Linked DNA regions of Homo sapiens: region 2 is linked to region 1. Evidence: fine-mapped expression QTL. A gene starts in region 1. The other region holds a variant in brackets. All regions are shown on one strand. Distances are between the middles of the regions.

Region 1 (5,322 bases):
CCAGGCTGGAGTGCAGTGGTGTGATCTTGGCTCACTGCAAGCTCCGCCTGCCAGGTTCATGCCATTCTCCGGCCTCAGCTTCCTGAGTAGCTGGGACTACAGGTGCCCGCCACCACGCCTGGCTAATTTTTTGTATTTTTAGTAGAGATGGGGTTTCACCGTGTTAGCCAGGATGGTCTCGATTTCCTGACCTTGTGATCTGCCCTCCTCGGCCTCTGAAAGTGCTGGGATTACAGGTGTGAGCCACCGCACCCGGCCAATGTCTGATTTCTTTACATCAACCACACCTCACAAAAATATCCTTTCTTCAGAGGGCCTTCTGTGACCATTCTATTAGGTTAGTGCAAAAGTAATCGCAGTTTTTGCCATTAAAAGTAATAGCAAAAACTGTGATTACTTTTGCACCAACCTTATATCTAGAATAGCACCTCTCCCTCTACTCCTAGTCTCCTATTCCAGTGACTTATTTTTTCCCATCGCACTTGTATCTAAAATTATCTGATTGTATTTGCTTTGATGTATCTCCTCCCACTTGATTTTTCCTCTCTCTCTTGTTCACTGCTGTCTCTCAAACATTTAGAAGAGTGGCTGGCACTTTAAAAACAGATTGGGGGTACAAGTGCATTTTTGTTACACGGATGTATTGGGTGGTGGTGAAGTCTGGGCTTTTAGTGTAACCATCACCCAAATAGTGTACATTGTACCCAACAGGTAAGTCCTCATGGCTGGAGCTCTTAAGGTGATACTCAATAGTGCTTGTTGAAATAATGGATAGATCACATAATCTATAACATTATAGGGCAGAATGCACACTACGAGGAACCATGAGATATCTCAGTAAGTGAGTGTTAGAAAAGAACCTACAGGATTTAGGTTCATAATAGGTGATTTTGGTTGGGATTTAAGGAAGCAGAACTTTTTTTTTTTTCTACATTGGATATTGTCAGGAAGCAGGGACAATTCTATGATTAGAGATTCTTAATGAACCTCATCTCTAGGCAGGAAGACAAGAACAGGGCTAAAACCATAACTGGTAAAGCAGCAGCAGACAATCCTATCAGGCAGGATGGGGAGATGTTTGGTGTTTTGGGGGTTTGCACAATGACCTTGTTTTTGTCAGCACTTAGACAAGATTACCGAGTCACCTTGTTTTTTGTCTCATTTCATAGTTTATAGAGTGGCCTTGTGTGATATTGGTGTTCTATGCAACTGTGTTTAACAGGAGAATGCAAAGGCCCAGCTGTTGAGTGTCACAGCTTCTAGGCCAGTTTCTAGGTGTCAAGGTCCATTTTCTGTCTCTTACAAGTGTCCTAAGGCTGGAGTCTAGTGTCAGCACAGAAATAAGCAGGAGAATATCTTTCGGCTACTTGATAGTTCCCTTTTCCCCAGTTCTGGCTATGTATTAGGATGGACACTGAACCAAGACAGCACAGGCTGGTAGAGAAGCAGTACTTCTAGAAGTCAACTAAAAAATGCCTTTATTTATCCAAGAATTAATTATCCTCTCAGCACATGGCTACCACAGCTAATTTTCAAATGGAGAATGCTGTATATTTTGCATCCTGAATGATAGAACGCACCATTGCCTCAAAGGCCATGTTCAAAAACCTGCCAAGTCCTTGATTCTGGTTCATATTTTTATTTTTATGTAAACACAACAGTATGGTTTCAGGGAAGTCTGTTTTTTTTTTGTTTTGTTTTGTTTTTTTGAGACAGAATCTCGCTTTGTCACCCAGGCTTGAGTGCAGTGGTGCTATCTCGGCCCACTGCAACCTCCACCTCTCAGGTTCAAGTGATTCTCTTGCCTCAGCCTCTTAAGTAGCTGGGATTACAGGTGTATGCCACCACACCCAATTAATCTTTGTATTTTTAGTAGAGACAGGGTTTCACCATGTTAGGCTGGTCTCGAACTCCTGACCTCGTGATCCGCCCGTGTCAGCCTCCCAAAGTGCTAGTTTACAGGTGTAAGCTACCATGCCTGGCCTTAGGCAAGTCTTTTAACTAGCATCCCAGCATCCTCTGGGACTCTATGGCACCTGTATTCCTCTGTTAACATTCCTTCTATATTGTAATTAATTTATTTTAATCTATCTGCCTGGTTAGACTGTCTCCCACATATTTGTATCCCCGGAACTTAACAAAGGACTTGGCACAGGCTAGGCTCCCTACAAATATTAAGTGAATTTAAAATGGAGCTTTAATTCCTGGCTTGAAGTCACCTCACAAAACATTTAGTGAGTCTGTATTACAAGCCAGGAGGACGCTATGAAAAATCAGATAGTCTTTCCCTTTAAGGAATTTGTATTCATTTCTATTAGAGTTAATAATAATAATGATAATAGCTGATATTTACTAAAGATAGGGAACTTTGTTAGGTACTTTATATGTACCTGAGTTACTGTCATTTTATAGGTGAAACAAGGGATGTACCCAATGGGTTAAGTTACTTTCCTGAGGTCACGCAGCTATCACGGGGCAGAACGAAGACTTTAACTCAGACAGTCTGACTGCAGTAACGCTGGCCCAACTATCATGTTGAAACGTACAGCACCGTGCCCATCCACAGTTCTCTCATTTATCAGAGAGGAGGTCCTGAATCCAAGTTATTGAAATCGTTGCAGACATTTGTTTTAAAGAGGAATAGGTCAAGATGACCAATCTGGGGAAGAACTTTTGCCAGGCAGTGCGTATGGGGAACAGAGCTGCGTTGGCCTTCTGTTAAAGCAGCTGGGGATTTCGGTTTTGGCTTCAGACCTGCACAACATTCAGTCAATAGCATTTATTGGGCGTCCACTGTGCAGGGTGCCCCCTGCTACTTCCTCTCCTCCCCACATCCTGGGGCAGGGAGGGGAAGTGAGGAAAGAAAAGCAAAGACAAGGCGAGGAGGATGCTGAGGGTGGGCAGGTGGGCACCCCCACCCCGCTGCGCCGGCCACGCCCCTTGCCGCTCCCTCGCCCCGGGGCCCACTTTAAACTCCCGCCCCTCGTAATAACGACCAATGGCCGACCGCGAAGCGCGCAGGAGGCTGGGGATTGGCCAGTGCCGAGGTTGCTGGGGCGACGGGTGGGTCCGGCGGGTCCCCGGGCGGGGCGGGGCCGGGGCGAGGGGTGCCGGGTGGTTTCCGCCCGGCAGCCCGCAGCCCGCTGCGCCCCGGGCCGCGTCTCCCGGCGGTGGGAGGGGGCGGCCCCCACTCGGTTCCTGGCCCCTCGCGGCCCCGTCAGCCTCCCGCTCGGGGTGCGCCGCCCTTCGTCTGGGTCTCCGCCCCCAGGACCCGCGGCCGAGAGCTCCGGAGCGCGGCTTCCCCGGCCGGCTGCGCGATGGGCTGCGGGAACTCCACCGCCACCAGCGCGGGCGCGGGCCAAGGTGAGTCCGGCGGGAGGCGGGGGCCGGCGGGGGCGGGCGGGAGAGGCGGCGGGAAGGAAGGGTGCAGGGATCTTGGGTGGGGGGCGCGCAGCCCCCTCTCCCCGTCCCCATTTTCGGGACAGGAGCAGACCGCCCGTTTCTGGAAAGACCGAAAGCGTGGCAAGTCCCCCGCGCGGGGGCGGTTGCGCCTGGAGCAGTCGAGCCTGCGGGGCGTCTCTGCCGAGGGAGCGCGGGGAGGACTGTCGCGGGCTCCCCTGCAGCCGCCGGGGCTCACCTGCAGCTGGCGGGTCTCAGGGCTCTCCTGGGGGAGAGGATTCCCGGACGTGGTCCCCGGCCGCTCCCCCACCTCCCACACTTGCTCCTCCAGGCCTCTCCCCCATCTCCTCGGAACCAAGGCGCTGCACCTGGAAAAGTGCAGCAGAGCAAGACAGGACTTTTCGGGCAGTGGTGGTGGGGCAGGAAGCGGGGAAGGGTGGGAGTGGGGTTGGGGAGAACTAGAAGCAGAGCTGCAAAAACGCATCTGTGTCTGCCTTGATGCCGAAGACCGGCTGGGCTGCTCTTAGGATTTCTCTGAGAAGCTGCAGCAGTAAGGATGTTTTACATATGTGAGACAGAGCTTTATTATTAACAGTCTGTTAAGATACTTTTCATTAAACACACACACACACACACACACACACACACACAAATAGAAACTTCTTTTTATACCACTTCATGTTGATTGGCAGGCAAGGTCTTCTAGCTTCCCCGGGCCAGCCAGGCTTTGTGTCAAGTGACTTTTGCCAAAACTCACCCTTCTATTTCACCCTGCCTATGTCTCGGGATTTAAGGTACCCTGGATCTGTTTTGAGTAATAACTGCTGACCTATTTCAGTGTCCTTTTGGATAAAGAGCTCCTATCTCCTCCAATTGAAGTCAACCAGATGCCACATCCTAGCCTAACCAGCAAATGCAAACAGCAGTCAGAGGCTGCGGTATTTCCTAGGCGGCTGTGGAGGCCCTGGCAATGACTTTGTAACCTTGGGCCTGTCACATCCCTTAACCCAGACGCCGGTAAAAAATGGAGTTTAAGACTCAATTTGAGTCTTGAATTAAATCCTGTCCTGGTGACAATGCAGAGAGCCACAGGAGAGCGAACTTTTTAGATTCATTTAACAGTGGGGAAGGTTAGTGTAGCACCTTATGCTAATGAGGGCAGACGGGCTTCAAACCTGCCTGTGGCCAGAAAGCTCTGCTTGTATGAAACAATGTCAGGGCCACACCCCGCACTCAAATTGTGTCTCAGTCTACTAGGTACTGTGGCCGTATGCAATCCACTGCATGTGTAGCCTACTTAAAAAAGGTGAAGAAAAGTTATCCACATTAAAAAAAATTGTAGGAAGGATTTGTAGCAGATTTCCCTTAAAATGAGGCTAGTTTCATGCATGTACATTTTGATTTATTAATGAACTGCTTGTCAGTTTTAGGGATGGGGAGGGGGTACCATTGCCAAATGAAAATCAGAATGATGGACCAGGCGCAGTGACTCATGCCTGTGTAATCCCAGCACTTTGGGAGGCTGGGGTGGGTGGATCATCTGAGCTCAGGAACTCGAGACCAGTGTAACCAACATGGTGAAACCCAGTCTCTACTAAAAATACAAAATTAGCTGGGCGTGGTGGCGCCTGCTTGTAATCCCAGCTATTTGGGAGGCTGAGGCACGAGAATTGCTTGAACCTGGGAGGCGGAGGTTGCAGTGAGCTGAGATCGCACCATTGCACTCCAACCTGGGCAACAAGAGTGGAACTCCGCTCCATCTAAAAAAAAAAAAAAAGAAAAGAAAAGAAAATAGAAAGATGGTAAGGTATGATGAGCTAGCTCTAAAATGTTAATGTAAAAATCAAATTTGGGGGGAAAATATGATTTCTTGGGGAAATATGATTATCTTTATGAATATTTGATTGACTTTTTCCCTAGGAG
Region 2 (5,383 bases), 71 kb before region 1:
GAAATTAGTCCCTTAGCTGCTGCAAGAGCTGCACCAGCTCCTGGGCCAGGGCTCAAGACTTCTCACTAAATTCTCACAGAGGTCCTCCTTAGACTTCAGAAAGCCACTACGGGTTGAATACTGTTGTGCTAGTATGTTCTCACACTGCTATAAAGAACTGCCTGAGACTGGGTAATTTATAAAGAAAAGAGGTTTAATTGACTCACAGTTCCACATGGCTGAGGAGGCCTCAGGAAACTTACAATCTTGGTGGAAAGCAAAGAGGAAGCAAGGACCTTCCTCACATGGTGGTAGGAGAGAGAAGTGCAAGCGGGGGAAATACCAGACACTTATAAAACCGTCAGATCTTGTGAAAACTCACTCACTGTCATGAGAATAGCATCGGGGAAACCATCCCCATAATTCAATCACCTCCCTCCCTTGACACATGGGGAATACGATTCAAGATGAGATTTGGGTGGGGACACAGAGCCAAACCATATCAACCATTTTCCATCTCTTCCCCTCACTTAATAGCTTCTCTCACAAATTTCAGGTTTATTTCTTTGCAAAACTTACCATATCTGGTCATCAAAACTGCACGTGGCTCATTTGGAGTGCAGTTGGTTACAGTGCTCAACTCTGGGTAACCAGAGAGAACAGATTTGTTGTTTGATGCTTGGATTCTTGATGACATAGGTCTGTTTTCCATCCTCTCCCTTTTTTCTCCCCATCCCTGGACCCATCAACCTTCTGCCTTCATGTAATTTCAAAGTGTTCTCCAGTAGAGAAGAATGTCACGAAGGCCTCCTTTATAGAAGTACATTACTCATACATAGTTTATTTTTCACTAGCGTTCTCCCGGCTAGGATGAAATTTTTCAGGCTTAATCATGTCTAAAAGAAGAAATATTTTGGAAAGTTTGAGCAAACTCACTTCAGAAACTATTGAGGATTTAGAAAATCAAGTTGTAGATGTGTTTTAGGTGAAGAAGTTTCATGAGGGTCATCATTACTTTCGGCAAGCCTCTGTTAAGTCCTAGGCACTGTGGAATAGCTTGGACTCCATGAAGATCCCTTTGTTGAATAGTTTGGGTCCCTCCAGGGTATGTTAGAGGCTAGACTGGCCATGTCTACAGCCTCAGCCACTCACTGCACTTCATTAATTTAAACGACTCCCATGAGCTCTGACATATTGGAAGTGAGAGTAGGTTGCTGGATCTAATGACCACTTGAAATCATTCCCAACCCACAAATAAGTTTTCACGGAATTCTCATTCCTGAATAAAGTTAAATCATGATTTTGACACACCGTGGAGGACTTGGCTCTTAGTCATAGCTCTGTGAGTCACTCTGCTCACCCAGAAGGTCACTGAAGATTCAAATGAGGCAGATAGGATTGTCCATCTCTGCTGGAAAATTGTTCTATAGCAATTTTGCCTATCTAGTACAACATTTTGGAATGCTTGGAATAGAGTAACAGCAACAGCAACACAATCATAGACCATGATAACTGCCATACATTGAGGCCTAATGTATGTTAGATGTTGTGTTAGGTGCTTATATAATTGAGGTCGACAACCACGCAAGGCATGTATCATTATTCTTATTGTGTGTATTAGGAAACAGAGGCTTACATGACAAGTTTGGAGGTGGCGTTGGGATTTGGGCTCAGATCTAGCTGACTCTGATGCCTGTGCTTTGCCCACCACACTGAACTGCCCTGAAAATGTGATTCTATACCTGAATCTTGCTTTCTGGGATGCTATGTAATTGAAGAAAAGTCTTTGATACCCCAATTACCCTGATGTGATTATTACACATTGTATGCCTGAATCAGAACATCACATGTACCCCATGAATACATATACCTATTATGTACCTGTAATCATTAAAAATATTTAATTAAGAAAAATGGGAGCAATGGAAATATGTGGAGAAGGAGTGTTCTTGTGAAAAGATTCCTTTGATGTAGCATTTTTAGGAATACAATGTTTTTTTCCCCATATAACTGAATTGTCAGTTTGTTATTTAAAAAATACTTTTGAGGAGGATCAGAAAATCTTGGGAGAAAAGTGCCTTTGTTCTTCTTAGCCTTATTAAACAGAGTAGACAGAATGTAACATTCTATTCTTGGTGTGTTAAGGCCATTTTTATAAGCATGAATTGTGATTCTCTAACATGAATAGTGCTATCCCTGGAGCTACTGTAGGCTGTCTATGAGGGAGAGGGTGTTTCCTCTATATTAACCAGCATGAGTTCCTTTTTTTTCTTTTTGTTTTGTGGGATGTCAAAGTCATCTCTCAAGACCCTACTTAATCATCTTCCTTGGAGACCTTCCCTGACCCCAAGGTGGAATGCTTCTCATTTAAGCTTCAACCAGCCCTTACATACCTCCATATGGCATGTGGCCCCTTGCACTATAAGGATCTCTTTATAGGCAGGTGTTCCCACCTGACTGCACTGTGCTGGAGGCCCTCCTTCCACCGTGTGCCCCAGGCCCTGCTTGGTACAGCCCATGCACAGAGTGGTCTCTCAATACATATTTCTGGAATGAATGAGTGTTTATACCATAGATGATAAAAAGGGAGTGAATTACTTTTTCATTATGATTGGGGGGTTGTTATTGAGGTCAGGGTAGCAAAATGTATACATCTTTTTTT[C/A]CTGAATGCTTTTCATATTAAATATGAATTTGTGGGTGTTTCACTCTCCAGTCTTCAAATGTGAAGCTGGCTCTATGGTTTCTGTGTGCCTGTGTCATTATGTATGACTTTGGTTCTATGGCTGAGGTCATTTTAGGCTGTGGGCAGACCTCCCCAACCTCTGCCTGTGCTGCAGCACTCCACTTGATCCATCCCATGTTCTCTCCTGACCCATCGTCCTTCCTTGACTTCCTCATAAGAGGTGAGTTTCACTAGCCTCTGACTCTCTATAGAGATGTCAGCAGACAAGCTCCTAAACCAGTTCCTTCTTCTCCTGGGGGTGTACACAGTGGTCACCTTGTTGATAGCAGAATTCCATTCCCTGATGATCTGGCATTTGCCACATTGTTGCTCACTGAATTTGCAAGTAAAGCTCCCTCGCCGACAGAGGAAGGGTCTCTCCTTAGCCCCTCCCTGCAGTGAGGGTCCAGCAGTGATTAATGCATGGACTAGGAGGGAAGTCGGCCCTTTCTTTGGGCCTGTTTGATCACTCACAGCTGTTTACTTAGCATCTCTACTGTGAAGATGATACAAGTCCCTACCTCATATGGTTTTTACAAGGATAAAATAAAATCATACTTGTGAAGCATACTATCATTTCTGGCATACAATAAGAATGCAATAACAAAACCTACTAACTTTTGCCCAAGATTAGGGGGAGGGCAATCAGTGATATTAATAAATTTAGTTTTCTAGCTTAAGGATTCCAGATGCCTCATCTAAACCTTTGAGGGAAGGTTTTTGTTGTTGTTGCTTGAGATTGTTACAAAACACTTTGTCTAAGAAGCAGAAAAACCCAATCCAGTATCAAGATTAGGTTCAATGTTAGTAGCACAGCCCCCTTCCCTACTCCCTGGATAACCATGGCTTAAACACACAGATTTTCTCTCTCACGTAAAAGTCCAGAATTGTCAATCTAGGGCTAATGTGGTAGCTTTTCTTCATGAGGTCCTCAGGGATCTAGGCTCCTTCTATCCCGAAGCTCCATCATATAACCTCCATAGGTTACATCATGGCCCAAGAAGGCTGCTCAGCTCCAGCCATTGAATCTACAATCCAGGCAGAAAGTAGAAAGGGGCAAGGAAGAAATAGTAAACGGTATTTGCCAGATCTCTTTTAAGGAGGATTTCAGAAGCTGCCATATGAGACTTTTACTTATATCCCATTGGACCGAACTGACTCACATGGCCATACCTAGCTGCAAAGAAGGTTGGGAAATTCAGTCTTTATCTTGGCATTGCCCTGTGTCCAGCCAGAAACCAGGAGTTCTATTACAATGGAGGAAATGGAAAATGAATATTGAAATCAGTCTTTGCTGCACAAACTCATCCACTTCTCCTTATTATATTCATTACATTCAAGGAATTTAAGTGAGGTCCCTAAAACCTCACTGTATTCTTTTCAGTCAATAATAACATGACTTAGCATTATGCCTGACACTGATACATATGCAATAAATCTAGGCATTGGGAATGCAAAGATAAATAAGGAACAGTTCTTCCCTAAATAAAAGTGGTATAATGGCTTCTGTGCTGTACCAGTGGTAGTTTCAAAGTATTATTGGATATGGGGGAAGGGATGAGTGACTTTCTGGAGGGTCACGGTGGATGGTCTGGAAAGGTCTAACAGAGAACAGCTTTTGTTTGGGACCTTGGTGAATAAAGAGGACTTTCTTAGAAACAAGCAGATACAAGCCAAAAATCAACTGCTGGGTGCATTCCCAGCTATAGGCAAGAGGTTCTTGGCTCAAATATGTGGATTCAAGCAAAGAATTAGGAAAAAATGGAGAGGGAAAGTACTTTGCCTCCTCCCATCTATGTGCACCCAAGGAACCAGAAAAAAAAGAATGGAATACAATGGTTATTTTTTAATTTCAATAGTAAAACATGGCTAGGCCATTTATTGCTATAGTCCAAATTTTTCCTCTGAAATATTGGATACTTTTCCTGTTGAAGAACAAATCTAGCATAAGGTTAATGGGCAGAGGGTCCCATTTTTAGAAACAGGTTAAACATACTGTACTGTGGAATAAGCTAATGTATGCCTGATATGAAATTTATGCTAAAATAACTCTAAAAATCTCATTAGGAGAGTAACCAGAGATCCTGAAAAACAGCTTTAATAATGGCAATAAAAGCAATCTCACCTAGTTTAGTATTACAAATGGGGAAATGAAACTATGAAGTTAAGTAGCCTAGCAAAGCCATGGGGCATTATTATAGAAGCAGCTCAGATTTTCTCATTCCTATGAACGTTTGGTTCCCTCAGTTACTAAACCTCTTTTGCATATGGACTTTTGCATATATATAACTATATAGTTATTTCCTACACTACGTACATATAAGGTTTCAAATTACACTTTGTTTTCTATTTTGCTCCAATGTACATATAAGCTCACATGTACAACCTGAGAAAACTTAGAGTTGACTGTGACAAGTCTTGATGTCTTTCATCATGCCTTTGGATAACAATTTAAACAACAGGGACAGTGCTGTTACAAAACTAAAATTATAAATATGGAAGCCATCATATGTCAAAACTGGATGCAAAATATTTTGAAGGCATTGCTTCCTAAAAGAAAACAAAGTAACTCTAGTTCATCAGAATCCAGGGAAGAAGAGAAAACCTATCCAGCCATCTGTAGTACAGCTGAGTCTGCGACATGTGACATGTACCATCCAGCATGTGACATGTACCTTCCAG

The links. PIP is the estimated chance that this variant, and not a neighbour inherited with it, causes the effect. A credible set is the group of variants that fine-mapping cannot tell apart.
Region 2: its variant is the best candidate, but not a certain one, in a credible set for the expression of C12orf75 in whole blood (INTERVAL, PIP 0.89).

What each region holds. Positions count from the first base shown.
Region 1 is chr12:105,327,575-105,332,896 of GRCh38, forward strand. C12orf75 (chromosome 12 open reading frame 75) reads left to right here and starts at 3,117. Exons shown (of 6, transcript NM_001145199.2): 1 at 3,117-3,363. The coding sequence starts at 3,318. RefSeq lists silencers at 2,753-3,412, 3,443-3,542 and an enhancer at 4,199-4,742.
Region 2 is chr12:105,256,334-105,261,716 of GRCh38, forward strand. No RefSeq gene overlaps it. Among named protein-coding and RNA genes, the nearest start is that of APPL2, 23 kb to the left of the region's middle. The variant C/A (reference allele first, on the strand shown) is at 2,642.